Linked DNA regions of Homo sapiens: region 2 is linked to region 1. A link means that fine-mapping ties the variant in region 1 to the expression of a gene that starts in the linked region. Tissue or cell type: tibial nerve. Region 1 holds a variant in brackets; the other region holds the start of a gene. All regions are shown on one strand. Distances are between the middles of the regions.

Region 1 (5,149 bases):
GCTGTTTGTCAAGTGTAAATTTCTATTTTTTTCCACACCACACTCTTGAATGTGTATAATAGAGGAGGAGAGAATCAGATCTATTATACAAACTTACTTTTTTCTTCTCTTTTGTATCTTTCCTTCCTTCTTTTGTTCCTTCCTTCCTCCCTCCCTCTCTCTTTTCCCTCTTTCTTTCTTTCTCTTTTCTTTCTTTCCTTCTTTCTTCTTCCTTCTTTCTTTCCTTTCTTTCTCTCCCCCTCCTTCTTTCTTTCATTCATTCTTTCTTTCCTCTTTCTCTCTCTCTCCCTCTCCCTCCTTCTCTTTCTTTTTCTCTTTTCTTTCTTTCTCTTTCTCCTTCCTTCCTTTCTCTTTCCTTCCTTCCTTCCTCTTTCTTTCTTTCTTTCCTCCTTCTTTTTCTTGTCTCTCTCTTTCTTCCTTTTTTTCACTTTAAACGGTGCAGTTACTTTGGCATGAAGAAGGAAATTAGCCACTGTATAATGAATGAGGTTGCTTGGAAGAGAACACAGCTTGCTGTCTACTTTGCTTCTCCTTTCCTGATCTGCTAAAGAAAAGGCAAAATGTGTAAGGTGAGGCTCATACACCTGTGTTTGTACTAGTGCTCTGATTTGAATGTTTGTTCCCTCCAAAACTCCCATTGAAATTTAATTGCCATATTAACAGTATTAACAGATGGGACCTTTAAAGGGTGACTAGGCCATGAGGGCTCCGCCCTCATGCATGGAGTAATGTTATAAAAGGGCAAGTTTGGTCCTCATCTTTCTCTTTGCCTTCGCCATGTGATGTCTTCTGCCATGCTATGATGCAAAAAGAAAGCCCTCTCCAGATCCCTGAACATTGGACTTCCCAACCTCTGGAACTGTGAGCCAATAAATATATGTTCGTTACAAATTACCCAGTCTGCGCTATTCTGTTACAACAGCACAATCGGACCGAGGCAAATAGGTAGCCAATAAATAAGATTTTATTTAGAAAAAAATGCAACAGAATATCCATACCTGCACATAGTTAATCCTGCTCAAGGTGTTTGCTCTTATAAACATATGGGTTTGGGACTCAATTTACAAAAACAACTTGTATTTATAAGTTCATGGAAACTCAGACAAGAACAGGCAGCATTAATTAAGTCTGAGCCAGGTGCCAGCTGGGGGATCAAATCCAGAAGAAGCAAACAATCTAGTTAGAAAGATAATGTAAGAAAAATTAAGCAATCATTTAACATATAAACTGGAATTTACATAATTTCATAAACTGTCAGTAGCTTAATGGAGTCAAAGGGAGTTTATGGGAGGAAGAGGTTAATTTAGATTGAGATGGTCAAAGAAGCTTTTTTTGAAAGGTGGTTTGAAGGAAGGTTAGGCCAGAAGAGATGGGAATATGAGGGATGGATGTAGCAGGTAGGTGAAAGGACATGAACAACTGTGTGCATATAAAGTGTTTGGGATCTTATGAGCAGAACAGTTTCACTAAACTGATTTATTTCTTTAAGGCAAATATAATAGAGGAAGAAATGGTGGGAACAACAAAGTTGGGATTAGATTAAGGAAGGTCTTGAACCTTAGGTGAAGAAGGTTGGATTTGATTCTGTAAATAATGGGGAACTACTGGATGTTTTGAGTAGAAGAGTACATTTTTGCAAAAGTATTTTAACAGATTAATTTCAATAGTTTATACATGTGACAAAAGGGTTAGAATTAGGGTGGTGGCAGAAACTAAATAGATGGGATAGAGAATAGATCTGAAGGAATCATGTACTTTAATGACTGATGGAAGATTACAATCAATGGATGGGCAGAAACCTTCAGCCTTGAAGTTAGTAGAAGAAAATAAGCAGTTTTGGAAGGGGGAATAAATCCAGTTTGAGATATCTCAAGTTTTAATAATAGTAGGATGGACAAGTAGAAAAATCCAGTAGACAACTGGAAGTGTGACCTGGCATAGAGGTGACCATAATTGAAGTCATGGGAGTGAAAATTGCCTCTAAGGAAAACCAAGCAGAGACTGAATCTCAGAAAGGACTGGATGGAGAAATAGCAGTAGCAGAAGAAACAGACACATGGAGCATTAAGGCAGCAAAAGCAAGAAGGAGTGTCAGGACCAGGCAGTGGTCCACAGCACCAAAGGCTGCAGAGAAACCATGCAAGACAAGATCAAGGACAGACTCTTCAAGTCTATGGTGCCTTTCCCAGTGGGAACAACACAGCATGAAGAGTGGAAACCAAATGACAAGAGATTAAGGAGCAAGCAAGTCATAACAGAGTTAGAATGTATGGACTTCTCTTTAGGAAAGAGAAAAAAAATAGGATGGAAACTTGAGGTAAAGCCAAAGAATGGAGAATATTTGCACTGACCATGGTATTAGGAAATTGGTAAAAGTTGAATAAAAAGTATTGCTACACAGTAGTTGAGATGAGAGTAATTTGTCAAGTCAGAACAAACACAGGAATAAGACAGCAGACAGTGGGCAAGACTCAGGGATGTCGAGCCAACACAACAGACTGGGGAAAATGAAGTGGGCAACAGAGTAACAGGTGTTGATGAAGGCAGCCTCAAAGAGGCTGTCCAGTGAGGCCACATGAGGTTAATATATCTAGACTGGGGGAATCCAGAAACTGTAGCACACCAGCAAGAGGAGGATAATTAAGAATGGTGATCC[G/A]GCGAGGTCAGGAGATCGAGACCACGGTGAAACCCCGTCTCTACTAAAAATCCAAAAAAAATTAGCCAGGCGCGGTGGCGGGTGCCTGTAGTCCCAGCTACTCAGGAGGCTGAGGCAGGAGAATGGCGTGAACCCGGGAGGCAGAGCTTGCAGTGAGCGGAGATCGCGCCACTGCACTCCAGCCTGGGCGACAGAGCAAGACTCCGTCTTAAAAAAAAAAAAAAAAAAATGGTGATCTGGAACAACTGAGGGACTATTTCAACCCTGAGCATTCCAATTTAAAAAGCACTTGTTGCAAATCAACCAAACGACAATAATTTACTGAGCACTGTATCAGCATTGGGCTTGAGCATGTCAGGGATGGAGAAGCATGAGGCAGTGTTCCAGCCCTCGAGGCACTTTAGTGTAGTTAGAGAGGAGATGAGCTCATCTGAACCCGGTGAGAGCATCACTTCGTGGCGTTGAAAAAGGACTTTAAGTACTGTGAAGAGTTGGCTGGAGCAGAGCCGGTTGAGAGCTGCCAGGGTGGCAAAATGGGAGTCGTCCCCTCTCCTGCCCTCTTTATATCCTCTCCGATCCTCATGGCCAAGCCACACAGCTGCACCTTCAAGAGACTGGAAATGGAGCCAAAAAGAGGGCAACTGTGATTTTCTTATCATGTGAGAGACCTAAAAGCTATACATCTCCCTGCTCAGAGAAAATATGAAGGCAATATCCATTTTCTTTCTATGCCTGGTGTGGGGTACTTTGCTTAGCAGAGCAAGCTGGATCAGGAGGAAGAGACAAGAAGATTTTTAAGAGGTGAGGAGAGGTTTGGAGTCCTTGATGAGAAGCCAATAGCCAGGAGCTGCCCCACAGCTCATTGATGTTGAGTGCATGAGCAACCCTCGGGAGCCTTCCTATTGCCATGGGAGAGTCTGTTTCTGGATTGCTGTCTCACTCCTATTCCCATTCCTGGGGTCTCCGCCTAGTTCAGAGCATGCTGCACAGATCATTCAAGCCTAGGAAGGAATCCTGGCTCTGCCATTTATTGGGAGTGTGACCTTGAGCAAGTTGCTTAAGACAACTGAGTCTCATTCCCGCTTCCAATGGGGTAATCGTTCTTGTAGAAAAAAATGCCTGGTACTAAACAATTACTTGAGGTTATTGTTATTTTCATTTATTCTTACCTTCCCCCTTATCTTCATTTCTTGATGATGGACATGATTATTTTTTCCTTTCTTTTTTTCCAGCCAGCTACAATGCTTGGTAGCAGAGATAGGTTTGGCTCAATTAATCAACTATTTTCCCAGCACAACTAGTGACTGTTATTTGATGAATACTCCCCTGATGTAGCTGAAGGGGAACAACTTACTTAGTTTTGAGATTTTCAAATGGCACTGTACATCAAGATCAATCTCTGTCTCTCTCTTTCTCTGACACACACACACACACACACACACACACACACACACACACACTGCCCCATTCACAGCTGCTGAAGCAGAATCTTGGGGAGATGAGGCCTGGAATCTGTTTCTAAAAGCTTCCACCCCTGGTTAAGAACGCTGTGCCTATTCAAACTCAGGCACCCTATGAGAATATATAACAATATTGTTTGAAAAATAGACGAATTATTTTCTATCAAGCTGCGTAAATTCAGAGCCTGTGGCTGCTTCAGTCATAGCCTTAGGAACAAATTGAAAGGGATTTGTCCAATTGGGGACTTAACATTTCAGAGAAGTCCACCACACACAAAAAATATGTTTGTTCTTTTCTATGCATTAAAACAGTCTAAAGTTCAAGCTGGGGTTTGCTTTGATCTTTTATTTTTGCTTTTTTATGGGTTGCAAATCAACATCACTCCATCATCCATCTCTGCTTTACCTGTCATCATATGACTCATGACTTTCTAAAGAGTCAAGAACCTCCTCTCCCTTCAACCTCTCTGGAGTTTCTGAGGCATCCACGGAGGAGAGGGGGAGGGGTGTATAATAGAGGAGGAGGGAATCAAGTCTAGGGGGCGAAGCTGGGGCAAGAGAGGCAGAGAGCAGTGGTGGAGGAGTGAATGTCCCATAAGTACGGGTCTGGCAGGAGGATAGAAAATCCAGCAAACCTGTGCAGGGGAAATAATTTTTCACACATTTCCAATGTCTTGCTCACTGTCCCACACTGGTAGGGGTGTGTGTGTGTGTGTGTGTGTGTGTGTGTTGGGGGAGTAGCGTGGCTGTATAGTTAGAGTTGAAAATAAAAAGGCTCCCTCTATTGACTGCTGAAAGGCTGAGATAAAGAGAACCACATGGGACTCATTGTGAGAAATGAGACCTCAGAAGCTAGCCTCCTTTTTCCCATTATTGTGCTATTCTCCTCCTTCCCCCTACCCCTCCCACCTCAAATGTCCCCCAGCCCCCACCTCGCCCCACCTTCCCTTTCCCTTGCATAACCCAAAGGCCCTCTTTTCAAGCTCTCACTGCTGAGGCCCCCTCAACTGAGCCCGAGACCTCCATTCAGAGT
Region 2 (5,149 bases), 70 kb after region 1:
GCCAGGTTTCTGAACTACTGGTCTTCAGGTAAAAAGCCAAATTCTTCCCATGATCTGACTGACACCACTATTCCCAGCTCCACCCCTCAGCACAAATCACGTCCCAGCAGTACCAACTCAGGACTAGTGATTCTTCAAACCCATGCTGCTTAAAACCTCTCTGTAGGAATATCCTTTTTCCTTTAACTGCCTGGGGAGTTCCTATTCATCCTTCAAAAGACTCTATTCAAGCATCATCCAACCTCATATACAGCCAGTAAATATCTACTGAGGCCCTACTATATGCCAGGCTCTGAACTAAGCATTGAGATAGAAAGACCAGTTAGCTATGTCAATGGTAGTTCTCGCTTTCAGTAGGTTCATATGCCATTGGAGAAATAGACATGAAAGTAAACAAAGAAATACAATAAAGCGAGGTAAATTCTGTGAGAGAGGCTGTGGTAGGCTGAATAAAGATCCCTCCACCTCCCACCCAAAGATGTTCACATGCTAATTTCCATAATCTGTAAATATGTTACCTTGCACTGAGAAGGGATTTTGTAGCTATATAACCTTGAGATTTCAGCTGCTTGAGATTTCAGCACCCCAGCATTTTTGTGTGTGTGTGTGTGTGTGTGTGTGCATGAAATAATGAAAATTTTGAACAGGCCCTTGCTTGCTTGTACATGTTAACCACTCGCTTTTTGCCCAGTATTCCTTGTTCCCACAATGTAATTATAAACTGCTGATGTACTGTTTCTTTGTCAAGCAGAAGGAGATAACTTCAGGGTCATAAGAATAGTTTGCAGAAGGAATGAATTCCTGGAAGGACATTGCAACCAGCTGCCATGTACATACGGCTGCACAAGGTGTTACCTGAAATGGAAGAAACACAGACTTTTCCCTTGGATTCCTTGAAACTCCCTCTCCATTACTCTCTAGCTCCATAAAAACTCCCTGCTTCTTTTTTGTTACTGTGGATCTGAGAGATCTTGCTCTCTTGCCCTCTAACTTTGGTCAAATCGAATAAATATTTCTCTGTCTCCAAGCACCAGTATCTCAATATTTGGCATCAGCTGCCCATCGGGTACATGAGCCTGAATTTGGAGTTCTAAAACAGATGTGATTAAGTTAAAGATTCTGAGATGGAGTGACTATCCTGATTATCTTGATGGGCTCAATGTAATCACAAGGGTGTTTTTAAGAGGGAGGCAGGCAGGAGGGTGAGAGAGACAGAGGAAGAGGAGGAGACTGAAAAATGTCATGCTGACAATGAAGGTGGAGGATAGTGAAATGAGCCAAGGAATGAAGGCAGCCTCTAGAAGCTGGAAAAGGAAAGGAAATGAATTCTTCCCTAGAGATTCCGGAAGGAACCAGCCCTGCCAACTTCAGTCCATTGAAATTAATTTTGGACTTCTGACCTCCAGAAATGTAAAATAACTTCTACTTATTTCAAGCCATTAGGTTTGTCGTAATTGGTTACAGCAGCAATAGAAAACTAATACATAGGCCAACATAGGGCACTGTGGTAACACATTAAAGGGGCCTCTGTATCAAGTTATGGAGTGAGGACGGGGTGTTTAGGAAGAATTACCCCAAGTGACGACCCCAGAGCTGAGGAAAGGAGATTGTGTTTCCGAGGATGACCCAGGTAGAGTAGGTAGATGTGTAAAGGCGCACAGAAAGAGCATGGAAAGTGTTTCAATAAAGTAAGACTGCTTGCATGAAATAGTAGTAATAACATCAACAATATTAACTATGGTAAATGTTCATTGTTTGTATGCCAGGAGTGCCTTGGCATTTTACAAGTCTGTGAGATTGATACTATTATTATCATCTTCATTTTACCCACAGGGATACTAAGGTCTGGAGGAGGAGGTAAGTAAATTTCCTGAGATCACCGAGCTAGTAAACAGCAAAGCTAGAACTAGAACCTTGGCAGTCTGTTTCCAAAACTCACTGTTTTTCTAATACGTTACTGTGGGAGTGTTAAGAACTTAAGGGGGCATTAGCATGGCTGAGGATAAATGAATTATTAGAAAGATATTAATGAGGTAAGGATCACTAGAGCTTGGAATATGATCTTGTCTTGGAGACTGACAAAAGTGGGAATGACTGACAGGTGTCTTCCAAGTTTCTTTGATGTGATCTCGGTTTTGCTGTGGTTCAAGACATAAAGGAGCCTTCCTTTACCACTCAAAGCAAATCACTGCTTCTTCGCTACAAATTCCACACCTTGCACAAACCTCTTCATTTCATTTCTTCCTTTTTCCCCTAATGTCTGAGGCAGAGTTGGGGGTAAAAGCACCAACTCAATTCTGGGCCTCATTTTCCATATTTGTAAAATGCCTAGAAGTATTTAACAGTTCCAAACTTGGTTGTGCTTCCGAATCCCCTGCGCTAAGTTTAAACAAAACGCAGATTCCTCATCGCATTCTCAGAGATTCTGTTGGTTAGTATTGGGATGGGGCCTTTTTTCCCCCATGATTCTACGCGGCCACGTGTTGGTAACCAATATACAGATGACTGGGTCCTTCCCAGTCCCACGCGTTTACTCGATGAAGGCAGCCTCCCGCCGGGCTCCTGGCCCCGCCCGAGCCCCACCCCCTGCTCCCTTCCGGCCCGGACTGGGTCCCATCGCCCCACCTCCGGTCGCTGGACGTGCTCTCGCGTAGCTCCGCCTTTCGTAAGTCCCCCCGCCTCGCATGATGGCTGCGGTGCCGCCGGGCCTGGAGCCGTGGAACCGTGTGAGAATCCCTAAGGCGGGGAACCGCAGCGCAGTGACAGTGCAGAACCCCGGCGCGGCCCTTGGTGAGTGAGGCGCCGGGCGAGGATGGGGGAACGTTTCCGGGGGAGGCCGCCAGGCCCAGCCGGCGCATGTGGGCGGGGGTGGTACCGGGACTTCCCGGCCCGGGGGACGCTGGGAAGGGGCGCGGGGCACGTAGGGGTCGAGCGGTCCCAGCACTTTGCTGGTGTAGCTTGTAGGGCCTCTGGCTTCGCATTCCTTCATTGAACCAGCTGTGCTAACCCAGGGCTTGGCTGGAGAGATGAAAGACCAAGGCTCAGCCGTGCGCTGAGGGGGCGGAGAGAGGTGGACTCAGCTGGTGCCGGGGAACAGTGCTGCCTGGGAACCCTTGCTCACCCGGGTCTTCGGAGTCTTGTTTACCCTTCCGTCCATTTCCCCTTTCCTTCTTTTTCCTGTACCCGAGGAGCGGTGGACGTCACCTAAGCACTGGGACTCAAACTGCAATCTTTTCGGACCTCTATCTGCTTATCTGTGAAATGGAGTTAGTCCTCCTACTCCTCACAGGGGCGTTGGGAATATCTAATGATGTAATTTAGGAGACAGTGCGCTGTAAACGACGGTGTTTTGCCACCTAAATGGGTGGTATTTGTTAGGGTGAAGGGCATATAGTAGGTAGGAGCCTGGCGCAGGAGCCAGGTTGTTTGGGTTTGAATACTAGCTCTACCCTTTGCTGGAGCTTGAAGGAGTCATTGAACCTTTCTGTGCCTCACTGATCTCACTTTCAAATGGAGATAAAAGCACCTTCCTCATAGGGCTGTTTGGGGGGATGAAAGAGTTGATAATGTAGAGAAAGCATTTGGAACACTGCCTGGCATGGTAAATGAACACTCAAATGGAAGCTGTTATGAATATTAAATACGTAGCTCCGGGGCCCAAGGGAGAGAATACAGTCATGGGTTCTTTGTTTCCGGTTGGGCTGGTAAAGCCCTTTCCTCATCCCTCTTTTCACTAGAGACAAACTAAAAACCATGGCTTTAAGCTGCAAAAAGCCTAAAACAAAACAGAACAGAACAACAAAATAAGGCGGGTTGGACAAGCTTGACTTAGATCATCACATCCCCTTTCCCATATATCCATCCTACACACTTTACAGATTATCCCATCTATCCTTCCTACACACTTTACAGATTAATCTTCCCTCTTTCTCTATTCAAAAATTCTTTAACAACTCCTATTAGGCCTGGGAAATTCACCAACTCACTACCCATCCCCGAGGCAGCCCATTCTGTCTTCAGGTAGTTGTTGGGACAGTAAGAAAATTCTTGTTAGGTAGCAACCAGCCTTTACTTCCATTTAGAATGCTAGTGCTGCCTTTAGAGCCATAAATAACACATGAACTACATCTTAGGGACTTCTACAGATTTTCAGACTAGGAAGCATCTGCTGATGAGCACCCGGTGTTCATCAAATAATACGATTTCCAGTTACTGTGGTGGTTTTTCTTTTCTGAATATGTTTGTGTCTCTCATAAAGTGATATCCAAACACAGAAGCCTTGATTTTGAAGACTGTGAATTTATTCATTCTGTCTTGCTTTCGGGCATAGCGACATGGGGAGTTAGAGAGTTATTACACATGTTGTGACATGTGCCCTACCTTCAAGGTGGGGGTTAAGTGTACACATGAGGCGTAAGTGTACACCAAATGACTGACAGCAAAGTATTCATATGAAAGATTATTAAACCATGATAAAATGCAATGCAAAGATACAGCTTCTTGTTTTACAGATGTTCTCTTAATGATTTCCTGGACTTTATATCATCTGTTACCATTTTCCAACTTCTCTTATACTTAGAATCCTTACGTTCTTACAGTTGAGACTGATTACATTAGTTTTTGATTCCTTTAAAACAAATAAGGAAAGATGCTTTTTTTAGTGTGTTTTTAATATAATATACTTACTGTAGAAATACATACTAAATCTTATTAGATGTCTCTGCTTCAGACCTTTGCATTGCAGCTGTAATTAAAGAATGCCATCTCGTCATACTGTCGCTGAAGAGCCAAACCTTAGATGCAGAAACAGATGTGTTATGTGCAGTCCTTTACAGCAATCACAACAGAATGGGCCGCCACAAACCCCATTTGGCCCTCAAACAGGTGAGGAAGCCCGGTAGGTGAGACCCAACCTGTTCACTTGAAAATGTAGATCACACTGCCACTTACTATATTGCTATTTATGGAAATCTCGTGGAAATCTCAGTAAATTACTTGTGTTTTATAGGCCTATAGCCCACAGTTACATGTGCACTTTCTTTTTTTTTCCTAAAAGCATTTCAGCATTTCAAAAAGTAATTTTTGTTAGAAAAGAAGTATGTTTAGATTCTTTCCCAGTCTTGTTTCTAATAGGCAAGTAAACATTTTC

Evidence for each region. PIP is the estimated chance that this variant, and not a neighbour inherited with it, causes the effect.
Region 2: NEPRO-AS1 starts here. The variant in region 1 is fine-mapped to the expression of NEPRO-AS1 in tibial nerve (GTEx, PIP above 0.99). The same link has a PIP of 0.9 or more in visceral fat.

The regions. Positions count from the first base shown.
Region 1 is chr3:113,086,744-113,091,892 of GRCh38, reverse strand. All of the region lies in intron 1 of NEPRO-AS1 (NEPRO antisense RNA 1), which reads right to left. All of the region lies in intron 1 of LOLI1 (lncRNA oncogene in liver cancer 1), which reads left to right. Among named protein-coding and RNA genes, the nearest start is that of LOLI1, 15 kb to the left of the region's middle. The variant G/A (reference allele first, on the strand shown) is at 2,657.
Region 2 is chr3:113,017,183-113,022,331 of GRCh38, reverse strand. It overlaps NEPRO-AS1 (NEPRO antisense RNA 1), which reads right to left and starts at 2,814. Exons shown (of 3, transcript NR_186663.1): 1 at 2,626-2,814. RMP64 (ribonuclease MRP subunit p64) reads left to right here and starts at 2,661. Exons shown (of 9, transcript NM_015412.4): 1 at 2,661-2,790; 2 at 4,730-4,884. The coding sequence starts at 2,685. RefSeq lists a silencer at 2,873-2,982 and an enhancer at 3,143-3,212.